6 separate regions of the Homo sapiens genome follow, and all the other regions are reported to be linked to region 1. The links are microRNA targets in miRTarBase. Many come from high-throughput screens and were not tested one by one. Region 1 holds a microRNA gene; each other region holds the end of a gene's coding sequence.
Evidence for each region. The annotated mature microRNA hsa-miR-6858-5p reads GUGAGGAGGGGCUGGCAGGGAC and lies in region 1 at 2,317-2,338, shown strand. An mRNA with a match to its seed (bases 2 to 7 or 8) in the 3' UTR can be bound and repressed. Matches are read on the target gene's strand: a 7mer-m8 pairs with bases 2 to 8, a 7mer-A1 pairs with bases 2 to 7 and ends in A, and an 8mer does both.

Region 2: the mRNA of METTL21A is a reported target of hsa-miR-6858-5p. The part of its 3' UTR that is shown has no 7-base or 8-base seed match.
Region 3: miRTarBase lists SLC38A4 as a target of hsa-miR-6858-5p. Seed matches in the 3' UTR shown: 7mer-m8 at 766-772.
Region 4: the mRNA of SLC23A1 is a reported target of hsa-miR-6858-5p. The part of its 3' UTR that is shown has no 7-base or 8-base seed match.
Region 5: the mRNA of QSOX1 is a reported target of hsa-miR-6858-5p. Seed matches in the 3' UTR shown: 7mer-m8 at 839-845, 7mer-m8 at 954-960, 7mer-m8 at 2,558-2,564 and 7mer-A1 at 2,843-2,849.
Region 6: miRTarBase lists HMGCS1 as a target of hsa-miR-6858-5p. Seed matches in the 3' UTR shown: 7mer-A1 at 3,438-3,444 and 8mer at 3,818-3,825.

What each region holds. Positions count from the first base shown.
Region 1 is chrX:154,448,004-154,452,003 of GRCh38, forward strand. It overlaps MIR6858 (microRNA 6858), which reads left to right and starts at 2,317; the gene lies at 2,317-2,383. It overlaps FAM50A (family with sequence similarity 50 member A), which reads left to right. Exons shown (of 13, transcript NM_004699.4): 5 at 481-557; 6 at 687-753; 7 at 890-951; 8 at 1,218-1,294; 9 at 1,678-1,732; 10 at 1,880-1,928; 11 at 2,026-2,096; 12 at 2,206-2,316; 13 at 2,421-2,651. The coding sequence ends at 2,429.
Region 2 is chr2:207,609,228-207,613,331 of GRCh38, forward strand. It overlaps METTL21A (methyltransferase 21A, HSPA lysine), which reads right to left. Exons shown (of 4, transcript NM_001127395.5): 4 at 3,512-4,104. The coding sequence ends at 3,819. Among named protein-coding and RNA genes, the nearest start is that of METTL21A, 14 kb to the right of the region's middle.
Region 3 is chr12:46,763,024-46,767,127 of GRCh38, reverse strand. It overlaps SLC38A4 (solute carrier family 38 member 4), which reads left to right. Exons shown (of 17, transcript NM_018018.5): 17 at 326-2,367. The coding sequence ends at 427. Among named protein-coding and RNA genes, the nearest start is that of SLC38A4, 61 kb to the left of the region's middle.
Region 4 is chr5:139,368,377-139,372,480 of GRCh38, reverse strand. SLC23A1 (solute carrier family 23 member 1) reads left to right here. Exons shown (of 15, transcript NM_005847.5): 14 at 228-494. The coding sequence ends at 475. It overlaps PAIP2 (poly(A) binding protein interacting protein 2), which reads right to left. Exons shown (of 4, transcript NM_016480.5): 4 at 2,764-3,748. The coding sequence ends at 3,683. Among named protein-coding and RNA genes, the nearest start is that of SLC23A1, 13 kb to the left of the region's middle.
Region 5 is chr1:180,196,615-180,200,718 of GRCh38, forward strand. QSOX1 (quiescin sulfhydryl oxidase 1) reads left to right here. Exons shown (of 12, transcript NM_002826.5): 12 at 1-4,104. The coding sequence ends at 423. Among named protein-coding and RNA genes, the nearest start is that of LHX4, 32 kb to the right of the region's middle.
Region 6 is chr5:43,287,319-43,291,422 of GRCh38, reverse strand. HMGCS1 (3-hydroxy-3-methylglutaryl-CoA synthase 1) reads left to right here. Exons shown (of 11, transcript NM_001098272.3): 11 at 203-3,953. The coding sequence ends at 292. Among named protein-coding and RNA genes, the nearest start is that of HMGCS1, 24 kb to the left of the region's middle.

The DNA.
Region 1 (4,000 bases):
TGCCCTTGAGCATCAGGCTAAAGAGTTTAGATTTGTCTTTTTTTGTTGTTCTTTTCTTTTTTTTCTTTCTTTTTTTTTTTTTTGAGATGAGGTCTCACTCTGTTGCCCAGGCTAGAGTGCAGTGGTTTGATCACGGCTCACTGCAGCCCCGACCTCGCAGGCTCAAGCGATCCTCCCACCTCAGCCTTCTGAGTAGCTGGTACTACAGGTGCGCCACCACACCCGGCTGATTTTTTTGAGTTTTAGTAGAGACGAGGTCTTGCTATGTTGCCCATGCTGGTCTCCACCTCCTGGGCTCAAGTGATCCTTCTGCCTCATCCTCCCCAAGTGTTGGGTTGACAAGCGTGAGCCTCTGTGCCCGCCCTAGGCTTGTCTTCTAGATCGACTGTTCTCAAGGTATGCTTGGGGGACCCTGGGCGTCGGCCATATCAAAATCATTTTTATAATAATGCTATGATATTCGGCTTCCTTTTGTTCCAGAGATCACCACGAAGAAGAGAAAACTGGGGAAGAACCCAGACGTTGACACAAGCTTCTTGCCTGATCGAGACCGTGAGGTAAAGGCTGCCTGGCCCTGACCCCGGCCTCGACTCCAGCCCTGGTGGAGACCCTTGCTTAGGGAGCCAGGCTCTGCGTGCACCCTGAGCAGCCCTGGGCCTCACCTGTCTGCCTGCTCCCTCTCCCAGGAGGAGGAGAATCGGCTTCGGGAAGAGCTGCGGCAGGAGTGGGAAGCCAAGCAGGAGAAGATCAAGAGTGAGTGTTTGCGGAGTCAGACGCGAGGGGCCTGGGCCCAAGCCAGCTTCCCTGTCCACAGTCTCCTGGGTGGTGCGCTGAGCCCCAAGGCTGCTCTCAGTGGGGCTGGAGACCAAGAGGCAGCTCTGCCTTGTAGGTGAGGAGATCGAGATCACCTTCAGCTACTGGGATGGCTCTGGGCACCGGCGGACAGTCAAGGTAGGCAGCGTGCAGCCTGCTTCCTGCTCACCATGGGCCCAGCCTCCCTCAGGTTCCGTGGGAAGGAACTGACCTTCCTGACTTGGGAAGCCCCAGGGATCCTGAGGATAACTGGCTCCAGGGCCTGGCCCCCTGTCTGGGGAGTGAGGCCCAGGCCTGGCTGAGGCTCTGCAGCGTCTGGCAGGGCCCTCTGGGCCTCTGCCTTGTTGAGAGCCCTTCTGCAGGCTTCCGCCTTCCCTTCCCAACTCCTGGATTCCCGGATACAGATGAGAAAGGGCAACACCATGCAGCAGTTCCTGCAGAAGGCGCTCGAGATCCTTCGGAAAGACTTCAGTGAGCTGAGGTGTGAGGTGTGCGTGTGTGCACGGTGGTGTGTGTGGCACCTGTGGCTCCAGCCTGGGTGCCAGACACCCAGTGTGATGTGGGCGCTGTCTGGGCAAGCAAGCAGCGTGCTGGGCACTCTCCTCCCAAAAGAGGGGGTCAGGCTCCTCTTCCCTTCCCTCCCACCAGAGAGCTTTGCTGAGAGCGGCCTGCCTTGGTTCCTTAGCCCAAAGGTGGAGGGTGCTGGGCGCCAGTCCTGTGCTCACTAAACCATGGAGCTTCCCTCACAGCCAACTGGCCGCTGCTTCCCAGCCCCAGCATGGGCTCTCCTGGGCTGGCTGTCTCCTCCCTCCCTGGGCAGGGGTGCTGTCCTCTTGCCCACGCCCTCCTGCCTTCCTCCCTCAGGTCCGCAGGGGTGGAGCAGCTCATGTACATCAAGGAGGACTTGATCATCCCTCACGTGAGTCCCTTCAGCCCCAGTACCCGCAGTGGGTGCAGCACCCTGGGCTTTGGCTCAGGCTGGTGGGGGCAGTGTGCGCAGGCGGGGGGTGTGGGGAGGGGCCGAGATGGACCATCAAGACGCCGCTTTCCTGCCCTTGGCTCCCAGCATCACAGCTTCTACGACTTCATCGTCACCAAGGCACGGGGGAAGAGTGGTGAGTGCCGCCGACCCAGCCGCCCCCATAGCACCTTGCCGCCGATGTTGTCACTGGGGCAGCAGCGGGACATTGGGCTGTCACTTCTCCCCTGCAGGACCACTCTTCAACTTTGATGTTCATGACGATGTGCGGTTGCTCAGTGACGCCACTGTGGAGAAGGATGAGGTACAGCGTAGGGGGCCGTGTGAGGGGGAACGGGTGTCCCTGGGCTATGGAGGAGAAGCCAAGGGAAGGGGAGGTCAGCAGGCGGCCCTGTGCCCTCTTCCTCCCTTAGTCCCATGCAGGCAAGGTGGTGCTGAGGAGCTGGTACGAGAAGAACAAGCACATCTTTCCCGCCAGCCGCTGGGAACCCTACGACCCTGAAAAGAAGTGGGACAAGTACACGGTGAGGAGGGGCTGGCAGGGACCCCTCCAAGTTGGGGACGGCAGCCAGCCCCTGCTCACCCCTCGCCTTCCTTGTCTCCTCTGCCCACCTTGTCCTCACACTAGATCCGCTGAGCATCCAGGAGGCTGCGCGGCCCCGGCTCCTCAGCTCCCTCAGTGTGCCCCGTGGTGTCACCGGGACTCCAGGCACCCGCTCCCCTGCGACCATGCCAGGCACGCTGGGAGGAGGACGGCAGCTGCTCGTGTCCTGCCCCTGCCACATCAGTGACTGCTTTATTCTTTTCCAATAAAGAAGTGCACGTGTCAGAGCTGGAGCGCCTGCATTGTGAGAAACCATTTGTGTTCGGACCAAATTCATTTGTCATTTTGACCATTTAAAACTGTACAATTTGGTGGCATTTAGCACATTTGCCATGTTGTGTAGTCATCACCCTGGTCTGCTTCCAGGACATTCTCATCCCTCCAAAGGCCCTGTGGCCATAGGCAGGCTCCTCCCCTCACATCCCCCCACCAGGCTCTCATGTGCTTTCTGTCTCCATGGATTGACCTGTTCTGGACGTGTCATACGTGCCTGGGGAGTCTGTCACCGTGGCAGCCCCACCATCCCTGAGGTGTCTTTGTGGCACTGTGCTTCTTGACCGTGGGCACCTGTCCTTGGGCGGTGGTGGCTCTGGTGGGTGGGAAGGGGGTTCCTCCCCAGGCCTCTCTCCCAGGCCCTTGGGCTCCTGTTGAGTTTCCCGTAGGGGACGTGGCCGTCCTGTGGCCACGAAAACCCATCCTGCCTTCCTTGCTGTGGGCCGTCCCAGCACAGTCGTTCTGCTGTGGTGCCCTGTGCTCGACACTTGCCTGCCCTGCCCTAGCTAGCCCTGCTCAGACAGCCCTTGGGGCAGGATCCAGATCGGGGGTAGGTCCAGGACCCCTACTCTGCCACCTCAGCAGCTGATTCCCCAAGTTCCACTTGGCTAAGCTGAGGCAGGCAGGCCTGGCTCCAGGAGGCTGAGGAAGGCCAGCTGACAGCTCCCTGTTTCCTCCCCTGGCCTGAAGCCAAGAAGAAAGGGCAGGGGATAGCCCCTCACTGGCCAGGATCACCCCAGCCCTGGGTCTGGCCTCCCCTTCCTGGCAAATGTGGAGATCTGATGGTGCCCGATAGTGCAGAGGCCCAGTGTCTCATTCAGCGTGGCCGGGAAGTAGCCACCTGGCGTCACTAGGAATAGAGATGAGAGTAGACTAATGTTTTCTTTCTTTTCTTTTCCTTCCCTCCTTCCTTCCTTCTTCCTTCCTTCCTTCCTTCTTTCTTCCCTCCCCTCCCCTCCCCTCTCCTTCCTTTCCTCTTTCTTTTTTTTTTTTGAGACTGGGTCTTGCTCTGTCTCCCAGGCTGGAGTGCAGTGGTGCAATCTCAGCTCGCTGCAGCCCCCACCTCCTGGGCTCAAGTGATCCTCCCGCCTCAGCCTCCTGAGTAGCTGGGACTACAGGTGTGCACCACAATGCCCAGCTATTTTTATTTTTATGTACATGAAAATTGGAACAGAATTAAAAAAAAATTTTTTTTGTAGAGATGGGATATTGCTCTGTTGCCCAGGCTGGTCTCGAACTGCTGGGCTCAAGTGATCCTGCCACCTCAGCCTCCCAAATTGCTGGGATTGCAGGTGTGAGCCACTGTGTTTGGCTGAGTAGGCTATTTGATG
Region 2 (4,104 bases), not on the chromosome of region 1:
TTTTTAAGATTTTATAAAAGAAATCTATCTCTAGTACCAAATACCATATTGAGATTATAATATTCTTGCAGTCTAAATTTAAGCTATTGTTTAAACTTTTGCATTGTAAAAAGAAAAGTTCATGTGTGTGTGTGAGATGTCAAAGTGTATCATAGATAATCCTAAAACAATATAACAATCATTTAACCCAAAGTCAATGCCCTTTAAATGGAATGTATCTTTTTCATTATTTGGTTATGAAATATACAGAAGGTACTGGGGAAGCAACAATGGAAGAGGCAGAAGCATTCTTGGCCCTCAAGGAGCTTACACTCTACAGGGCAATACTACCACTGAATGAGCAATTACAAGTCCAATACAAAAGGAGCTTATATGTAGGAAGCTAACCTCTCAGGCAGGGATGAGATTTAAAACTTTTAATGTCATCCTATGCGTTGTTAAGGAAGCAGGGAAAGCTTGGGAAAGAACTGCATTAAGACATTTGAGCAAGGGTAAAACAGAAGGGGAAAACCTCAGCTCTTGACTTGAAATAGAAAACCTATTCCCTCCCTCTCCCTCTCCCTCCCCCTCCCTCTCCCTCTCCCTCTCCCTCTCCCTCCACGGTCTCCCTCTGATGCCGAGCCAAGGCTGGACGGTACTGCTGCCATCTCGGCTCACTGCAACCTCCCTGCCTGATTCTCCTGCCTCAGCCTGCCGAGTGCCTGCGATTGCAGGCGCGCACCGCCACGCCTGACTGGTTTTCGGTTTTTTTTGGTGGAGACGGGGTTTCGCTGTGTTGGCCGGGCTGGTCTCCAGCTCCTAGCCGCGAGTGATCCGCCAGCCTCGGCCTCCCGAGGTGCCGGGATTGCAGATGGAGTCTCGTTCACTCAGTGCTCAATGGTGCCCAGGCTGGAGTGCAGTGGCGTGATCTCGGCTCGCTGCAACCACCTCCCAGCCGCCTGCCTTGGCCTCCCGGAGAGCCGAGATTGCAGCCTCTGCCTGGCCGCCACCCCGTCTGGGAAGTGAGGAGCGTCTCTGCTTGGCCACCCATCGTCTGGGATGTGAGGAGCCCCTCTGCCTGGCTGCCCAGTCTGGAAAGTGAGGAGCGTCTCTGCCCGGCCGCCATCCCATCTGGGAAGCGAGGAGCGCCTCTTCCCCGCCGCCATCCCATCTAGGAAGTGAGGAGCGTCTCTGCCCGGCCGCCCATCGTCTGAGATGTGGGGAGCACCTCTGCCCCGCCGCCCTGTCTGGGATGTGAGGAGCGCCTCTGCTGGGCCGCAGCCCTGTCTGGGAGGTGGGGAGCGTCTCTGCCCGGCCGCTCCGTCTGAGAAGTGAGGAAACCCTCTGCCTGGCAACCGCCCCGTCTGAGAAGTGAGGAGCCCCTCCGTCCGGCAACCACCCCGTCTGGGAAGTGAGGAGCGTCTCCGCCCAGCAGCCACCCCGTCCGGGAGGGAGGTGGGGGGGGTCAGCCCCCCGCCCGGCCAGCCGCCCCGTCCGGGAGGTGAGGGGCTCCTCTGCCCGGCCGCCCCTACTGGGAAGTGAGGAGCCCCTCTGCCTGGCCAGCCGCCCCGTCCGGGAGGGAGGTGGGGGGATCAGCCCCCCGCCTGGCCAGCCGCCCCATCCGGGAGGTGAGGGGCGCCTCTGCCCGGCCGCCCCTACTGGGAAGTGAGGAGCCCCTCTGCCCGGCCAGCCGCCCCGCCCGGGAGGGAGGTGGGGGGGTCATCCTCCCACCTGGCCAGCTGCCCCATCCGGGAGGGAGGTGGGGGGGTCAGCCCCCCGCCTGGCCAGTCGCCCCGTCCGGGAGGTGAGGGGCGCCTCTGCCCGGCCGCCCCTACTGGAAAGTGAGGAGCCCCTCTGCCCGGCCAGCCGCCCCGTCCGGGAGGGAGGCGGGGGGGGGGGGGGGGGTCGGCCAGCCGCCCGGTCCGGGAGGGAGGTGGGGGGGGTCAGCCCCCCTTCCGGCCGGCCGCCCCGTCCGGGAGGTGAGGGGCGCCTCTGCCCGGCCGCCCCTACTGGGAAGTGAGGACCCCTCTGCCCGGCCAGCCGCCCCGTCCGGGAGGGAGGTGGGGGGGACAGCCCCCCGCCCAGCCAGCCGCCCTATCCAGGAGGTGAGGGGCGCGTCTGCCCGGCCGTCCCTACTGGGAAGTGAGGAGCCCCTCTGCCTGGCCAGCCGCCCCGTCCGGGAGGGTGGTGGGGGGGTCAGCCCCCCGCCCGGCCAGCCGCCCCATCCGGGAGGTGAGGGGCGCTTCTGCCCGGCCGCCCCTACTGGGAAGTGAGGAGCCCCTCTGCCCGGCCACGACCCCGTCTGGGAGGTGTGCCCAGCGGCTCATTGGGGATGGGCCACGATGACAATGGCGGTTTTGTGGAATAGAAAGGCGGGAAGGGTGGGGAAAAAATTGAGAAATCGGATGGTTGCCGGGTCTGTGTGGATAGAAGTAGACATGGGAGACTTTTCATTTTGTTCTGTACTAAGAAAAATTCTTCTGCCTTGGGATCCTGTTGATCTGTGACCTTATCCCCAACCCTGTGCTCTCTGAAACATGTGCTGTGTCCACTCAGGGTTAAATGGATTAAGGGCGGTGCAAGATGTGCTTTGTTAAACAGATGCTTGAAGGCAGCATGCTCGTTAAGAGTCATCACCACTCCCTAATCTTAAGTACCCAGGGACACAAACACTGCGGAAGGCCAAGGCCGCAGGGTCCTCTGCCTAGGAAAACCAGAGACCTTTGTTCACTTGTTTATCTGCTGACCTTCCCTCCACTATTGTCCTATGACCCTGCCAAATCCCCCTCTGCGAGAAACACCCAAGAATGATCAATAAAAAAAAAATAAATTAATTAAAAAAAAAAAAAAAAAAAGAAAACCTATTCAAGATTTCAGGTGCTTTTTTTTTTTTTTTTTTTTTTTTTTTTTGAGATGGAGTCTCGCTCTTGTCCCCCAGGCTGGAGTACAATGGTGCAATCTCAGCTCACTGCAACCTCTGCCTCCCAGGTTCAAGCGATTCTCCTGCCTCAGCCTCCTGAGTAGCTGGGATTACAGGCGCCTGACACCACGCCCGGCTAATTTTTGTATTTTTAGTAGAGATGGGGTTTCACCATGTTGGCCAGGCTGGTCTTGAACTCCTGACCTCAGGTGATCTGCCCGCCTCGGCCTCCCAAAGTGGTGGGATTACAGGCATGAGCCACCGCATCCGGCCAGATTTCAGGTGCTTTTAAAAAGTAACTGAAATTTTATTTTTACTTAATTCCTTTATTTATATATATATATATACCTGAAATTAAGGCAAAAAGCATGATATGAGACCCAAAAAAGCTCATATCCTACTCAACTAAAAGTGTTTAGGACCTAAACAGGGCAAAAGATTTAAATAGCACTAACAGCTCAAGGAATGTATAGGTTAAACCTTTTGTTTTACATCCAGAAAATTAGAAAACTCAGCTAAACATTGTATATATCACAAGGTTTTAAAAATAATTTGTAAGATTTAATCTTACCAAGAAAGCTTACTCATTTAAAGACTTCTTTATACCGGCCCTTCATATCATCAGTGGAAACTGTTTATTAAAAGGGAGGAGTATGGGATACACAAATAGCATAAATCGAAATCTCACACTTAATCCTTTAATGTTAATTGCATTTCAGACTGAGTAAAGTCTGACTAAAAATCACAGCAATGGGACAAAGCACTGCTTTGTTTTAAAACTGCACATGTGCTTTCTCCCCTGAGAACCTTTGGCTTAGACTTTTTGTACAGTAAGACATTTCATTAAATATGGTTAGATTTGCAGTCTAAGACCTTAAGTGACACACTCAATGACAACATTCTTATAAATTATAGCCAATTATAAGTCCTCCTTCTGGTTTCTCTTCTGTGCTTCGTAAATATGTACATCTTTTTCAGGATCGTAGTGAACCTTTCTCACAGTAAATTGCCTCTCCAGCATTGCTAAGAAGTTGTTATCCCGTTCATAGCGAATTCGGCATGCTAAAAGAATCACAGAGTGATTGCTACAGAGATGTTCCAGTGTCTGAAGAAGATCTGTGAATGTTTCTTCTAAATATATGATATCAGCACCAAGTATCAGGTCAAATTCTCCAGGAGAAAAACTCCCCAAATTTTGTCCCCAA
Region 3 (4,104 bases), not on the chromosome of region 1:
AAGATTGTAAGCATTCTCTAGATTATTGAATCTTTTTCTGTCCCTTGATTTTTAATAATCACAGGGTATTCCATCATCTTGGTGTACTAAATCAATTAACTATTACTCCATTGTTGAACCTGTAGGTTGTATCTCTCCACTGTATTCCTCTTCTTTCTTCAACTAGGATTCTAAATTGACTGATAGGTTAGGCCTGGGCATCTGAGATATTAAGAATAATATGGCTCAATATATAGATCAGATTGCCATATTATGTAAACAACTAAAAAACAAATTGTACTAAGTATGGTTTCTGTGCTCCTAACAGAGTCTCTCTGAATTACAGGCTTTAATTTTCCTTGTGGTTGGAATATTCTTCATGATTGGAAGCATGGCACTCATTATAATTGACTGGATTTATGATCCTCCAAATTCCAAGCATCACTAACACAAGGAAAAATACTTTCTTTTTCTATTGGAAATGGTTACAAGTTATACTCCAAAAGATATTTGAATTATCTTGATTGGAATGTTATTCATAGGAAATAACAGGAAGATTCCAAAGACGTTTACCAGTAATATCACCAGGCACCTGCAGAAGAGGAAAATCACTGTTTTTGTCAAGGATGGTTGTGTATGTGTTTAAAATAAAACCTGTGGTGCACATTTCTACCCAGGTTTTGCTAGAGCAGTGTGAGATGATGAAGGTGTATTTTTGCTGCTTTACGAGCAGAATAAGGGTAACTGCATGTAACAATCATCAGATAGTACTCTTTCCCCTGCCGTCTCCTCATCCTGCACCCCCTAAAAAAGTACCAAACATTTGCATTCTCAGAACATCAAACAAAAATGCCCTGGTGGCAAAGCTATCACCATTTAATGTCTTCTCTCAGTCTTGCACCAAAGTCTCTGGTCTGTTTACTAACAGAGGCAAAAGGCATGTCTTAGGAACTGTTTCTGTTTCTGTAAGGTACATGAATGGTCAAACACCAGTCTAGAGCATCTTATTGTCAACAGCAAAATAATATTTTGCCCACCCTGTTTGTGACATTGAGTTGTGACTTCTATATTCAATAGATTTTTGTAAATGTTAAAACATCTATATTTAAATGTTAAAACACTAAATATAGAGAGGGGCTTTATTTCAATCATAGAGCAACAACAAAAATAATGCTTATAGCTAAACTGCCTGTTCTAGAAAGCATCTGCTTTTTCATGTTATTCCTAAATCCTCTTGTCATACTTTTGTCATTGAACAATGCTCTCCCTCTCGTCTTCCATCCTCATTCAGAATTTTTAGAAGACCACAATCGTGGAGATACACTACCCAGTATTGTTTGATACATTTTTATTTGATAAACATTCAGTGCAGGAAACTGTGATTTGCTATATGTTTATGTATATAATCTTATTCTGTAGTCATCAGAATGTTAATGTAAGGTACATTTGATTTTTATTTTTTACATGTGTAGTTTTCTTTCTTCACAGTCAAAGCATTTATATTATTGGGGGTGGGGGCAGGGAATTAAGTTGGTGGGCTCGAAAATCCATTCATATGTATCTGTCTACAAATGTCTGGGGATAATTTAAATTTGAAACCTAAGTTATATATAGTTTGGCAATGCTCTTCTTCAATATTTACAATAATAGGATGATCTACAAGAAAATAAGTTTCTTTTTGCAAATTTTTATCATACTAAAGTTGTTCTTTTAATTTAGCATATCTAAAATAGGATTTAGTTCAGTTTAGCTCACACAGGTGTTTGCTGACATTCATTGGCCATTTAATACAGTGTTGAGTGGTTCTCTGTAAAAGTATAAGTGCTAACACTACGAAGAAATGCACACGATCATTCTTGCTCACTTCTATAACAAACTTACATAAAATGGATTTAAAAATTCCTACTCACAGCCTAAAACTTCTGGAGTTCACTACCTTTTTTTCAAATCATAGTAAGATCACTTGTGTATTTTATATTTTAGTAAAGCCAATTATGAAGTACAAGTATCATACACGTACTTTTGAGCTACTATTATTTGAAAAAAATCTGCCAAATAGCATCTTTAGGATATATTTACATTTTCACTCATCTAAAAAGTATACAAAAATAAAAAGTGGAAAAAGGTATCTTCTGAATGTTCAAGAGCATCCTATAGTGCCAAATAATAAAGCACCATTTTTTTCTTCATAACCAGGATTAAAATTCATATATACTGCAGGGCAGACATACATATGATAGCTTGTGCTGATTAATTTAACCCCATTTGTAAACAGATGAAAATTTTATTTTCTTATTTCATTTATAAGATGGCTCAATGTATTGGGAGGCTTCTTTTTTATTACAGAAAGTGTATATTGGTATATAATAAATGAACTTTTCAAATGACTATGATGTGATTTTTGATCTATTGTTAAAGAATGTTGTGTTATTTGTCCATGAAACAAAATTTAAAATCCAAATACTGTCTTTCTTATATTGGTTTATGTTCCATTTTCATTGTTACCTTTGACACATAACTAACATCTATAGCCATCATCCTGAAAATAATTGCCATCTTATTTTGGCAAAATAGATATTTAATCCTAAATTATTATGATGATTATAATTTTGGCATCACATATATACCACCTAGAATGAATGTGGAAGAAATGAGTCTTTTATGGTTAGTTTGAAAGAATCCATTGAAGATAGAAAATGAGAGAATAGAAGAAACCTGAGAATAGTAAAATAAAGAGCAGAGAAAATATGGGGGCAGGGAAAACATGTGAGTGCTAAGGATTGATTATGAATGAACGATTAGGGGGATTGACGGATCACAGGGTAAGTATATGCTTAACTTTATAAGAAACTTCCACATAGTTTTCCACAGTGTTTCTACCATTTTCATTTCCACCCGTACTACCTACAACTTCCACTGACTCCACAGCCCTGCCAACATTTGGTGTTGTCTTTTGCATTTTAGCCTTTCTAGTGGGTCTGAAATGGTAACTCATTGTGATTTTCATTTCTGCTTCTGTGACAACTAATGTTGAAAACTTTTCAAGTGTTTAATGGTCACTCATATATCTTCTTTTGTGAAGTGTGTATTCAAATCTTTTGCCCATTTTTAAAATTTAGGTTATGTGTTTTTATTGGGTATTTGTAGAAGCTCTTTAAATATGGATCCATGTCCAGATTGCCAATATATTTTCCCAGTCTATGGTATGGTTGCTTATTTTCCTAAAGGTGTCTTAATTACATCTTTCTGGGGCCAGGTCACCATAGCTCAAAGTTTTGCAATTTATGTCTTAATGAGATAAAATTAATCAGAGTGGTATAGTCAAAATTAAATGTTTTGATGTCCTGGGCCCATATAGGTAGGACTGGATCATCTAACCAAGATGCAAAAAAAAAAAACAAAAAAACAAAAATAGTACTTGGAAAAACTTATTTTAAATTAAACATCTTTATAAAGGCAAACTAGATCAGCATACATTAAAACTAGCCACAAGGCAAAAACTATACCAAGAAAAAAATGACAGAAATTTTAAAAAGAAGCCTCAGAAGCCTCTTGACATGGTATGGATCTGTGTCCCCACCAAATCTCATGTAGAATTGTAATCTCTAATGTTGGAAGTGGGGCCTGGTGGGAGGTGATTGGATCATGGGGGTGGTTTTGGTTTAACACCATCCCTTTTGGTACTGTCATAGTGAAAGTGAATGAGTGATCTCAAAATCTAGTTGTTTAAAAGTGTGTGGCATTTCCCACTTCTCTTTTCCTTCTGCTCTGGCCTTGTGAAGTGCCAGCTCCCTCTTCACCTTCCACTATGATTGTGAGTTTCCTGAGGCCTCCCCAGAAGCCAAGCAGATGCCAGCATCATAATTCCTGCACAGCCTGCAGAACCATTAACCAATTAAACCTCTTTTCTTTATAAATTATCCAGTCTCTGGTATTTCTTTATAGCAATATGAGAATAAACTAATACAACTCCTATCCTCCAAACTTAAATCCTAAACCTGTAATTTGTTGCACACCTGCCCTTAAAGATTGACTAAAGGAAGTTCTTCAAACACAAAGTAAATGATAAAAGGAGAAATGTTGGAGTATCAGGAAAGAAGAAGAAATGAAGGAAAGATAAGAAAT
Region 4 (4,104 bases), not on the chromosome of region 1:
CACTGTAGTTACACAATAAATACTACTATAACTAGTATCCTTTAGTGTTCCTTAGAGCTCTGGCCAAGTTAGGAGCTCAGAAACCATAGATTCAGCCACGTTTTAGGACCAAATGATAGTTAAGGAAGATACTTGATTCCAGAAGTCTGCCTTAGGACTGGGTTATGGGAAGTGGGGGTGGCTGAGGGTTGCTGGCCTTGGTAAATGACCTCACTATCCTCTTCCAGGGAGCCCAGAGGAGCGTGGTCTGATACAGTGGAAAGCTGGGGCTCATGCCAACAGTGACATGTCTTCCAGCCTCAAGAGCTACGATTTCCCCATTGGGATGGGCATAGTAAAAAGAATTACCTTTCTGAAATACATTCCTATCTGCCCAGTCTTCAAAGGATTTTCTTCAAGTTCAAAAGATCAGATTGCAATTCCAGAAGACACTCCAGAAAATACAGAAACTGCATCTGTGTGCACCAAGGTCTGAAAAATGACTTCCAGGAAAGGTAGGATGTGTCTATGGTTTTTGTGGGAGGGTTGAATAATCAAAACATTCTTATGCTTTAACCAAAGAAAAACCAAACTACTCAGTTCTCTTTCTTGTAAACTGTTTGAATGTCCTCAAAGAGAAGGTGAGCTGGGTAAAAAGTCAACATACGGATTTTGGGTGGAATTCCTTTACCATTTCATAGTAACAGCAGAACTTCCCAACTAGTGTGGGCCACTAAGAGGCTACAAGTATGCTGAAATGCAGATCCTCTAGCCTTCCAGACACCTGGGCAGAATCTGGGCCAATTGGAGTCCTTGAGCTAAGAACTCTAGCCACTGGCAGCCTCATTCTTGTACTCCAGTATGCTAAACAAGTATCACTTTGATATGCGACATGGAAAATGTTGAGAAATGCAGCACAAGAACAGGAAAAATCCTCTCATATACACTGCCTTGTCTCAATAACGTCATAAAATTAAAACCCTTTAAAACAGGATGCCTTTATCCTAAAACGATGCCTGTACAAGCCCTGATGAGGTGACACTTTGTCCTTAGGTCTTCAGAACGCATGGGCAGCTGATGCTCGGAAACCTTCCATCACTATCTGTAATGCAGATGCCTGGCTCTCTACTAAACACTGAAGTGGGTTCAATGTGCACGTTCCCTCAGACAGACAAGAAAAGTTCCCAAAAAGAGAGGTTAGCCTAGATGACTCCTTAATAGTAAAAATAACAACACTTAAAACAGGACTTTCTATGTCTTAAGTACTTATATATATTAACTACTCACATAATCCAGAGACAGTTATTACTGCTATTTTAGAGATGTGGAAAGGAAGGTACAGAAAGGTTAAGTGATATGCCCATGATCACAGGATTCACATCCAGGAAGTCTGGCTAGAGTTCCCTTTTCCTTTTTTTTTGAGACAGAGTCTTGCTCTGTCGCCCAGGCTGGAGTGCAGTGGCGCCATCTCGGCTCACTGCAACCTCCACCTCCCGGGTTCAAGCAATTCTCCTGTCTCAGCCTTCTGAGTAGCTGGGATTACAGGCGTCTACCACCATGCCCAGCTTATTTTTGTAGAGATGGAGTTTCACCATGTTGGCCAGGCTGGTCTCAAACTCCTAACCTCAAATGATCCACCTACCTTGACCTCCCAAAGTACTGGGATTACAGGCGTGAGCCACCGCACCCAGCCTAGAGCCCCCTTTTCTTTTTTTAAATTTTTTTCCCAACAAAAGCCACATTCAAGAATCTTTACTCTTAAGGGCGATCACCTGAGGTCAGGAGTTCGAGTCCAGCCTGGCCAACATGGCAAAACCGCATCTCTACTAAAAAAATACAAAAATTAGCCAGGCGTGGTGGTAGGCGCCTGTAATCCCAGCTACTTGAGGCTGAGACAGGAGAATCACTTGAGCCCAGGAGGCAGAGGTTGCATTGAACTGAGATTGCATGACTGCACTCCAGCCTTGGTGACAGAGTGAGACTCTGTCTTGAAAATAAATAAATAAATAAATAAATAAATAAATAAATAAAGGCTGGGTGCGGTGGCTCACGCCTGTAATCTCAGCACTTTGGGAGGCCGAGGCAGGTGGATAACCTGAAGTCAGGAGTTCAAGACCAGCCCGGCTAACATGGTGAAACTCGGTCTCTACTAAAAATACAAAAATTAGCCAGGTGTGGTGGCACACAACTGTAATCCTAGCTATTTGGGAGGCTGAGGCAGGAGAATCACTTGAACCTGGGAGGTGAAGGTTGCAGTGAGCTGAGATCGTGCCACTGTACTTCAGCCTGGGCAACAGAGCAGGACTCCGTCTCCAAAAACCAACCAACCAACCAACCACACACTGGGGTACAGGTGCCCACACCAAAGAACCTCCCCCATACCCACTGCCAGAAGAATGTGAGTCAGAACTGACTATATGGCTCTCTTAATCTTTTTCAACCTAATAAGCTCAAAAAAAGCCCTTGTGAAGAACAAAAAACAATGGAGGTTCTATTAGAGTAAGGTCACCATCATATTGGTCAGCCATAAAGTTTCTTACATGACTATCTAGGATTCCCCTGACACTGAAGTCTGAGGTGATTAAGAAGCAAGGATGGGCAATGGAGTTATTCTACTGCTATATTCTGGAAAGGTACTTGCATGGCAACATACCTGTTAGAATCTAACAAAGCCTGAAAGCTTAGCACATTTTGCCAGCAAGATTGTCCTGAGGCACTGGGCCCATACTCAAGTGAGTAACACCACTACAGTACATTCCAGCACCAATAAACACAACCATCTGCTCAGTTCTACTATTATTTATTTTTTTAAATATTTTTGAAAAAATATAATTTTTTTACAATATTTTCAACTTAAACACTATTCACACTGAACACGTATGGCAGCTTAACCTACCCAAATATGAAGTTTAAGAAGCCAAAACTGTTCTAGCTTTGTTAAAAGTTGTGCTGCAGACTCTCGTGATGGTTAACAAAGCAAGGAAAAGCACCACTCAAATCATGTTACAGTATCTTTGTTCAGCTGGATTATGGGTTGGTATTGGTCATATGTTAGACTCCATACAGGCATAGCTATGATGCAGTGAATCCCTTAGAAGTTACAATTCTCAAATTACATACTTCCTCAGATGTAACATTAGAACTCAATATTTCTAACAATAACATACCAGAAAAGGCTGGACTGGCACTCATCTGCTGACTAACTTGTAGCCTCAGTAATATGACATACTTGCCTTTAACAAATTATCTCAAATTAACTAACAGACCTTCAGAAAATGGAGATTCTTTTTGATGGGGACATAATCAAATTTAAGTCTGAGAAATATGCTTAACAGTTGGAACTCAAATTAAATGTACTGATTTTAAAGTTTAGACATTAACAAGTGATAGATTAGCCTCAAAAAAAGACAATTTGGTAAGGTTTAGGTCTTTTAATTTGGTGCTTGTTCACAACTTGACTGGTGCTTCTTTCCTTGCTGTCTTCACATCAAGCCATGGGGCCAATTCTATTTTCAGTAAATGTTTGACAGCTTTTTACTTAGTAACAGTCTCAGCACTTTTATTAAGCATGCAAGACTAACAAAAACTTTGGCAATGCATAAGTGTAACACAGTGACAAGAGAGCTTTTACAATTAAGTCTTCTAATACTGCCTTCACAGTGTGGAAATTGTGCTACATCCACCAAAAGAGGGCCCCGTCTACTCAAATATTTCCGTACTTCACCCCAGGAACAAACTCCTTTGCATTTGGATTCAGATTGCTCTTGACCTGGAAAATAAGTACATAAAAAAGCAAGTTCATTAACACAGTTTCAGGTACTAATTCAATCTAGATCCTCATGCAAAAACATCTTCCAAAAAAAAAAAGACAAAAGAACTCAGTCTGTAAGACTATACTAAACCCCAAAAAGGAAGAACCAGATGTAAGCTATATATCATATTAAATTACATCAACTTTTTCTTTTCTTTTTTTGTGACGGAGTCTTGCTCTGTCGCCCAGGCTGGAGTGCAGTGGCACAATCTAGGCTTACTGCAACCTCTGCCACCTGGGTTCAAGCGATTCTCCTGCCTCAGCCTCCTGAGTAGCTGGGACTACAGGCGCGTGCCACCACACCCAACTAATTT
Region 5 (4,104 bases), not on the chromosome of region 1:
AAGCTGCACCCTGGCCTCAGAGCTGCACCAGGCCAGGAGCCTCCTGAGCACATGGCAGAGCTTCAGAGGAATGAGCAGGAGCAGCCGCTTGGGCAGTGGCACTTGAGCAAGCGAGACACAGGGGCTGCATTGCTGGCTGAGTCCAGGGCTGAGAAGAACCGCCTCTGGGGCCCTTTGGAGGTCAGGCGCGTGGGCCGCAGCTCCAAGCAGCTGGTCGACATCCCTGAGGGCCAGCTGGAGGCCCGAGCTGGACGGGGCCGAGGCCAGTGGCTGCAGGTGCTGGGAGGGGGCTTCTCTTACCTGGACATCAGCCTCTGTGTGGGGCTCTATTCCCTGTCCTTCATGGGCCTGCTGGCCATGTACACCTACTTCCAGGCCAAGATAAGGGCCCTGAAGGGCCATGCTGGCCACCCTGCAGCCTGAACCACCTGGGGAGGAGGCGGGAGAGGGAGCTGCCATCTCTAGGCACCTCAAGCCCCCTGACCCCATTCCCTCCCCTCCCACCCCTTGCTCCTTGTCTGGCCTAGAAGTGTGGGAAATTCAGGAAAACGAGTTGCTCCAGTGAAGCTTCTTGGGGTTGCTAGGACAGAGAGCTCCTTTGACACAAAAGACAGGAGCAGGGTCCAGGTTCCCCTGCTGTGCAGGGAGGGCAGCCCCGGGCAGTGGGCATAGGGCAGCTCAGTCCCTGGCCTCTTAGCACCACATTCCTGTTTTTCAGCTTATTTGAAGTCCTGCCTCATTCTCACTGGAGCCTCAGTCTCTCCTGCTTGGTCTTGGCCCTCAACTGGGGCAAGTGAAGCCAGAGGAGGGTCCCCCAGCTGGGTGGGCTGGAATGGAACTCCTCACTAGCTGCTGGGGCTCCGCCCACCCTGCTCCCTTCCGGACAATGAAGAAGCCTTTGCACCCTGGGAGGAAGGACCACCCCGGGCCCTCTATGCCTGGCCAGCCTCCAGCTCCTCAGACCTCCTGGGTGGGGTTTGGCTTCAGGGTGGGGTTTGGAAGCTTCTGGAAGTCGTGCTGGTCTCCCAGGTGAGGCAAGCCATGGTTGCTGGGCTGTAGGGTGAGTGGCTTGCTTGGTGGGACCTGACGAGTTGGTGGCATGGGAAGGATGTGGGTCTCTAGTGCCTTGCCCTGGCTTAGCTGCAGGAGAAGATGGCTGCTTTCACTTCCCCCCATTGAGCTCTGCTCCCTCTGAGCCTGGTCTTTTGTCCTTTTTTATTTTGGTCTCCAAGATGAATGCTCATCTTTGGAGGGTGCCAGGTAGAAGCTAGGGAGGGGAGTGTCTTCTCTCTCCAGGTTTCACCTTCCAGTGTGCAGAAGTTAGAAGGGTCTGGCGGGGGCAGTGCCTTACACATGCTTGATTCCCACGCTACCCCCTGCCTTGGGAGGTGTGTGGAATAAATTATTTTTGTTAAGGCAAGCATTGGTGTGTTCTTTAACTTGCTACTTGGAGACCTAGTGTCCAGTCTGGACAGAATGCACAGAGACCAGCCTCACCTGGAATGCAGCCAGACTCGATGTCCCTCAGCACACACAGCTCCTGGCCACAGACTGCCCATAGAACTGTCTGCACCCAAACCCCATGGCCTTTTCATGCACGGAGACAGGCCTCTGGATGTGCAGCCTTGCCACCCCCTGCCCCAATCCTCCCTGAGAGCTCCTGCCTCAGTGCCCTGGGCTGGTGAGGGAGAAGCCTGTCTGCACCTGCCTAATTCCAGCTCCTCCAGGAAGCAAGGGCTTGTTTGTCAGAGCTGCAGGGTTGGCCACTCGGTGGGGAGGAGTCAGCCAGGATTAGAGAGCCTGCCCCTAATCCGGCCTGCTGGGTTTTACAAGGATCAGAGCTGCTGATAATGAACCTCATTAAGGGGGAGCAGGAGCCTCAATCCGATTTGGTTTTCTCTTTGACATCTTCACTCTGCTCAGATGGCCTGGGTGCTATGTGGAGCAGGTGGGATGCCAAGGCCACTCCTGCTATGGGGCAGCTGGGGCTGGGGAGGGATGGCAGTCTCCCTGCATGTTTCCCTCGACCTCTTTAGCTGCAGCGCCTTGCTGGGCTCCTGGGTTGGACTCCCTCTCTGTGCCCCTGCTCCAGGCACCCATTGGCTCCATCCTCCTGGTTGTGCTCTGCACCCCCTGCTCCCTTGGGCTGGCCCTGGCTGGGGGCCTGAGAGACAGACAGGAACCCACAATCAGGAGGCAACCCTGGCCTGCAAGAGGAAGACAGAGGCTCCCAGGGCCGGTGCCCTGTGTGCCCACTGCACCAAGGCCGCTGAATAAGCCTGCCCTTCACCCCCTAAGGGCTCCTTGCCCAATGCCAAGTGCTGGGGATTTCTGTCAGCAAGCCCTGTGGCTCCAGTGACGGTATTTCTAAAGCCAAACTTAGTTACCTAGAATTAGCGCCATGTTGGAAACACTGTCGCAGCAGCCCGGGCTGCACAGTGTGTAGCCCAGCCTCCAGGTCCACGGAGTGGTGTGGACCTCCCACCTCACAGCTGCCTCTGGCAGCCAAGCCTCTTTTCGCCCGGCCCCAGCCCCTCTGGTTGATAAACGGGTGGGCCTCCTCAGCAGCGTGGCTGCCTTTCACCTTGATTTCCCCAGGGCTCTCGGCAACATCGATAAACCAGCCTCGCCCACCAGCTGGGCCCTCCCCCACCCAGTCTGCCAGGCTGGGAGCTGGAGCTTGCTGAGTCTTGAATGCCCTTCTAGATGGCTTCTCTAGAGGCTCTCCTGGCAAGAGAGGGTCCCAAGGGGAGCCCTGCAAAGCAAAGGCTCCTTGTCTGGGGCGGGATAGAGAATCTCGCCTCTGTCTGGTGTGTTACCTACTGGGGGCACAGGAACAATTTCCTCAAGGAGACAGTGGCATGGAGCTTTGAAAGACGAGTAGGTGTTAGCAAGGAAATAAGGAGGAACGGGGGTTACGGGCAGAGGAGAAAGCACATGCCAAGTCAGCAAAGAAAAGTAGAATTCGAAAACTTTTTAAAAATATTACTAAGGATTTTCACAATGCTGCACTGGGCTAGAAACTGAAGCTAAAACAGATACGTGGTCCCTGCTGCTATGGGGCTTCCGTTCTAGAGGCAAGGACAGGTTGTGATGAGGGTTCTGAAGGATAGAGACCAAGCAGGGAGGGTGTTGAGGAGGCTTCTGCGAGACCTGAAGGATGGGAAGCCAGGAAGTGGGAGGGGTGGGGGTCCAGGCTGGAGGGGCCCAATGTAGGTGTAGAGGGACTACAGCCCTGAGGGGCTGCTCCATGCGGCATTCTTGGAGGTCCAAGAGGGGCAGCGCCACCTTGGGCCAGGCTCCTCTCCAGCAGCCTTGGTATGGGGTGGGGGTGGGAAGACCCCTGATGCAGCCTGTCCTCTGGGTGTGGGGGTGGAGGAGAGGGCTCCAGGGGACCCAGCCAGCCTTGACCCTGGAGGAAAGTCAGGTGGGCTCAGAGAGAGCCCTCAAATCTGGGCCCTGGGTCAGGGTGGGGTCAAGTCCAGCCTTGAAGAGAATGGACTCTGGAATCTGACGTCTGGGTTTGAATCCAGCTTCCAACACTCACTGGCTGTGTGACTTTGGGCAAGATAACTTATCCCCTTGTCCCCATGTGTCATTGGAGATAAACTACCCACCTACCAGATTGTTGTACCATGCTGGGCAAACACTAAGTGCTTAATAATGGTAGCCCACTGCTCATGTCGTGTCGTCTCCTGTCTTGATACCTGAAAACTCAAGGGGCCCTGTTGTGCTTGGAGGGGGGTGCCGTTCCCACAGGATATTCTGTGAAGGGTGTCCCTGGAGCTGGGCCTCCAGGTGGCAAGCCCCAAGCCACCCCGGCAGGTGCCACTGGCCAGAGTTGAACTGAGGTGTTGAGTGGAAAGTGCCTCCCCACCCCCATCTGCCACAGTAGTATGGATTTCCTTCATGAGATGGGGCTCCTAAAATGCCTGAAATGTGTATGCTGTTGGAGAATTGATGTGTATGATTTATTGAACTTTGCACTCATTTAAATCTCATTTAATCCTCCAACAACGCAAGATGAAGAAGCTGAGGCTTAAAGAGATTAAGAAACATCCTATCCCCTTTACTCCCACCAAAATAAATACATTTGCCCTATTC
Region 6 (4,104 bases), not on the chromosome of region 1:
GATAATTGTATACTAAATTCACCATAAGGTGAAAAATGGATATTGAGTTCCCTTCATGAAAAGTTATATAAAATATATATTTAGCATAAACTTCTCCAGAGTTGTCCTTTATTAAGTTTCTTTACAGAAACTTTAATTGGTGCCATGATTCTTGTGGGGGAAAGAATCATAAGAGCCATCAACTTTTTTCCTTTCATTTTAGCATATTCCAAGCCCTGCCAAGAAAGTACCAAGACTCCCTGCCACAGCAGCAGAACCTGAAGCAGCTGTCATTAGTAATGGGGAACATTAAGATACTCTGTGAGGTGCAAGACTTCAGGGTGGGGTGGGCATGGGGTGGGGGTATGGGAACAGTTGGAGGAATGGGATATCTGGGGATAATTTTAAAGGATTACATGTTATGTAAATTTTTATGTGACTGACATGGAGCCTGGATGACTATCGTGTACTTGGGAAAGTCTCTTTGCTCTATTTGCTGACATGCTTCCTGTTGTGGTCTGGCCAATGCCAAATGTACTCGAATGATGTTAAGGGCTCTGTAAAACTTCATACCTCTTTGGCCATTTGTATGCATGATGTTTGGTTTTTAAACATGGTATAATGAATTGTGTACTTCTGTCAGAAGAAAGCAGAGGTACTAATCTCCAATTAAAAAATTTTTTAACATGTAAGAATTTTGTACTTTGAACAACAAGATTACAGAAAGTACCTGTGGTTTTTGGAAAACATTTCTAGCTTGGGGAATGTGACAACATTCCCCAGTGTGGTAAAATTGGGGTAAAATGTGGTAAAATGTGATACGCACAAACCCTTTGAAAATAGCAAAACAAACATGCCCTTTTTCTAAAATTGATAAATCCTAAAGAGGAAGAAAAGAGCTGGGACAATAAAACACTGGCTCTGGAATCTGGAATGTTAAGTCCAGGCCAGCAGTGACAAAAGTTATTGTAATGACCTCTGAACAGAGAAACACTGCCATTGAAGAGGCTTCTGGTATAGAAAACATGGTACATTCAGGAGCTGTGAATATAGCTCTAGGTGTGCTCCTGAATCAGTTCATGGTAGATTATGCTGAACAACAGTGAGATGTTATTGGAGGTGTGGATGAGGGAGTTTGTTGTTGCAGTCCTTCTTTGCACCTTATTTTAAAGAATAAATGAAACATTTTTCTGGTTACTTTTTTAAAAATTTAAAATGGAAGGGAAGAATAGGGGCAGGGCATTATTAGGCTATTTCTGATGCTTCAGTGTTATAAATTCAACATAGAGGCTGACAACCTAAATTCATGGTGTAACACAGCTCTTTTCCTTTTCCTTTTTTTTTTTTTTTTGGTATCTGTTCAATGAAAATAAGGTATGACCCAAGTTTTTACCTAGTCTGACTAGAAGTATTCCACTTCAAGGTCTGAAGTAGGACTTTTACCTTAAAAAACAACAACAAACAAAACTATCACACAGGATAGATAAGAAGATTGGTTAAACAGTTTTGTGTAGATCTTTTTGGTGCTGAACTATGACATGAGCCTTATAGATTGTAAAATAGGGATAGTTGGAACTAATGTACAGAACTAAATTTTTTAAACTTTATTTGCTGTTAAATTCTGTGAAGTTTCAGTTATCTAAAATAAATATACACAAATATGAAATATAATGTTTCAGATTGCAAGGTAATATGTAATAGTAGTGTTTGTAAGATACTCTTGTCTAATATTAACTAGTAGTATTTTGATTTGTACAGTCATAATTTGTTAAAATGACTTCATTTAACATTCACTGATGTAGATTAATAATGTAAGTTCTGATTTAAAGAATGGTGGCAAAATGGTGCATGTAATACTTTTGCAAGTGTTGGGGAGATCGGTATGTTTTGAAAAGAGTAATTTAACTTTTGGGTGCCAGGAAATGGGTTTTCTCAAAGTCCATTGCCGGCAATGGGCAGGCCTGCAAATACTGGCACAGAGCATTAATCATACACCTTATTAACGGTGAGGTGAATAACTTTGAAATAAAGTTTTAGAGAAATGTTTCAGATACTTGAGTATTCTTTTTCACTCTTGAACTAACAACTTCGGCAAGAAATCAGCTAATATTCTATTTTTAAATATGGGCATTAATTTCATTTCAGTTCGTTCACTCATTCCATTCATTTATCATTTCACAAACATTTGAAATCCTAATATAAGCAAGGTGCTCTGTTTAAGGCAGAAATTTGAAAATGTACAAGATATATGGTCTTGTCTTTAAGGAGCTGTTCATCTAGAATGGAGGAATTTACACTGATAATTATTCCTACACTTGAAACAAAGAAATTAACTCTCAAATTGCGTGGCAAGCATATATAGACTTTGCTATAAATATTTATGAAATGAGTTACTGTTTTCCTTAAAAAAGCTAAGACTAAGGGCTGGCAATCAAATAAGAGCAAATTTAGTGGTGAACGTAGAACTGCCCACTACCAGCTAGAGTCTCCAACCTAAAAGTCCCATGTTGCTAGTGATCCCCAGGGGTTTTATAGAAGGAATCCCTGCATTGGCAGTAATTTTGGATTAGATGATCCCTAAGAGCACCATCAAGTCTTAGGATTCTATGAATTAGGAAATAAACCAAATTATATATTTTCTAATACTGATCAGCTCATATTTTATCATCATGTCATGTCTGGCTTTCATACTTAGTCATAATTTACTTTCTGGGTCATTTAGAGGCTAGCGTTCTCTAAGGTCACTTCTGCTTGCACATTGTAGGATATTATTTAGTATGGCTTTAAGAATTCAATCTTTCCCCCTCTCCTTTATGGAATGTGTGTTTCCTCTATTTGTACACTTAACCTTTTGTCCTAAGTTTTTATTTTTATGGATACTAATGAGTAACTTTGAGGTTGACACTAGACCCAAACAGATGCAAACAGCCACTTTCTGTCCTCTTGTGACACAGTTGAAACACTTTATCTCTTGTCTGCTGTTTGGAGTGTCCTGAAAGAAACACTGAAGTGGCAGTCAACAGAGCAAGGGTAACAGGATCTTTAAATAATTTAAAGTTGTCTGATCTTGACATAAAAGTGAACCCTTTCTTTAAAATTTCTAGCAACTGCTCTTAAGTCATAGGTTCCTCATTTTTTCTTTGCTGGTAGTGGGAGAAAATAGTTGATCTGTGATTTTTGTTTTCATCTCCCCAAACTATGTTATAAAGGCAGTAATTTGATGCTGAAGATTATGATTAGAAATCCTCAGATGGGTTATATATTGGGGCTTTATCTTTTAATATTAAAAAGAATGTCTTTCCTGGACTACTTTATTCAGTAGTAAGCACTATTCATTCTATGTATATTCCTTATTCAGCCTTGCAGACTCCTGTGGGATCTGATCTCTTCCTGCTTCAACTCAGTACCATACTCACCAAGGCTTAGTATGTCTTCACCCACTCTCCCTTCTCTTGCATTCCTCAAACATGCTGAGTTTATTCCAGCCTTAAGCCTTTGATCTACGCATCAGAAATGTTGGGCCCCACTTCAGATCTTCTCTGCCCTGCCTTCTACTCCAGTCACTGCTGTGGTAACTAATTCCATGAAGTCTTTGACCAGGTTCTCAGAGAATATGATAGTACCTCTCTTTGGATTCTAGCTGTATACCTTTCACTTCAGCCTCCCTGACGTGGAATGTCTGCAGAACTTGTTTGGTACTCCCAATTGCACAGCCCAAAGGTGCAGGGGAGTTAGGTGCCCATGGGGCCATCCTTGACCTAGGTGGAAAGTTGCTAGTGGATAACTGATTACTCTTTTCATCACCTGGGCAGACAGTTCTGAAATGCATTTCGTAAGTCTCCTCAAAAGAGGAGGAGACTTCTGTGGCGGGTTTGGCAATAACCATCCTTATATTGGCTTTCCTCTTTTGTTTCACTCCTGTGCATCTCTCTTGCATCCTGGGATCGCTTCTCAAATAAATGACTTTCATTCAAGCTTTTCTCTCAGGCTCTGTTTTTTGGGGAATCCAAACTAAGACGATTGGTACCCAGAATGGCCCTAGAAAGCAGGCATTCAGGATGGGAGATTGGAGCTGGTTTACTCACCAAATGACAAAAACCTCATTGCAGAATGATGCCCTCCCAA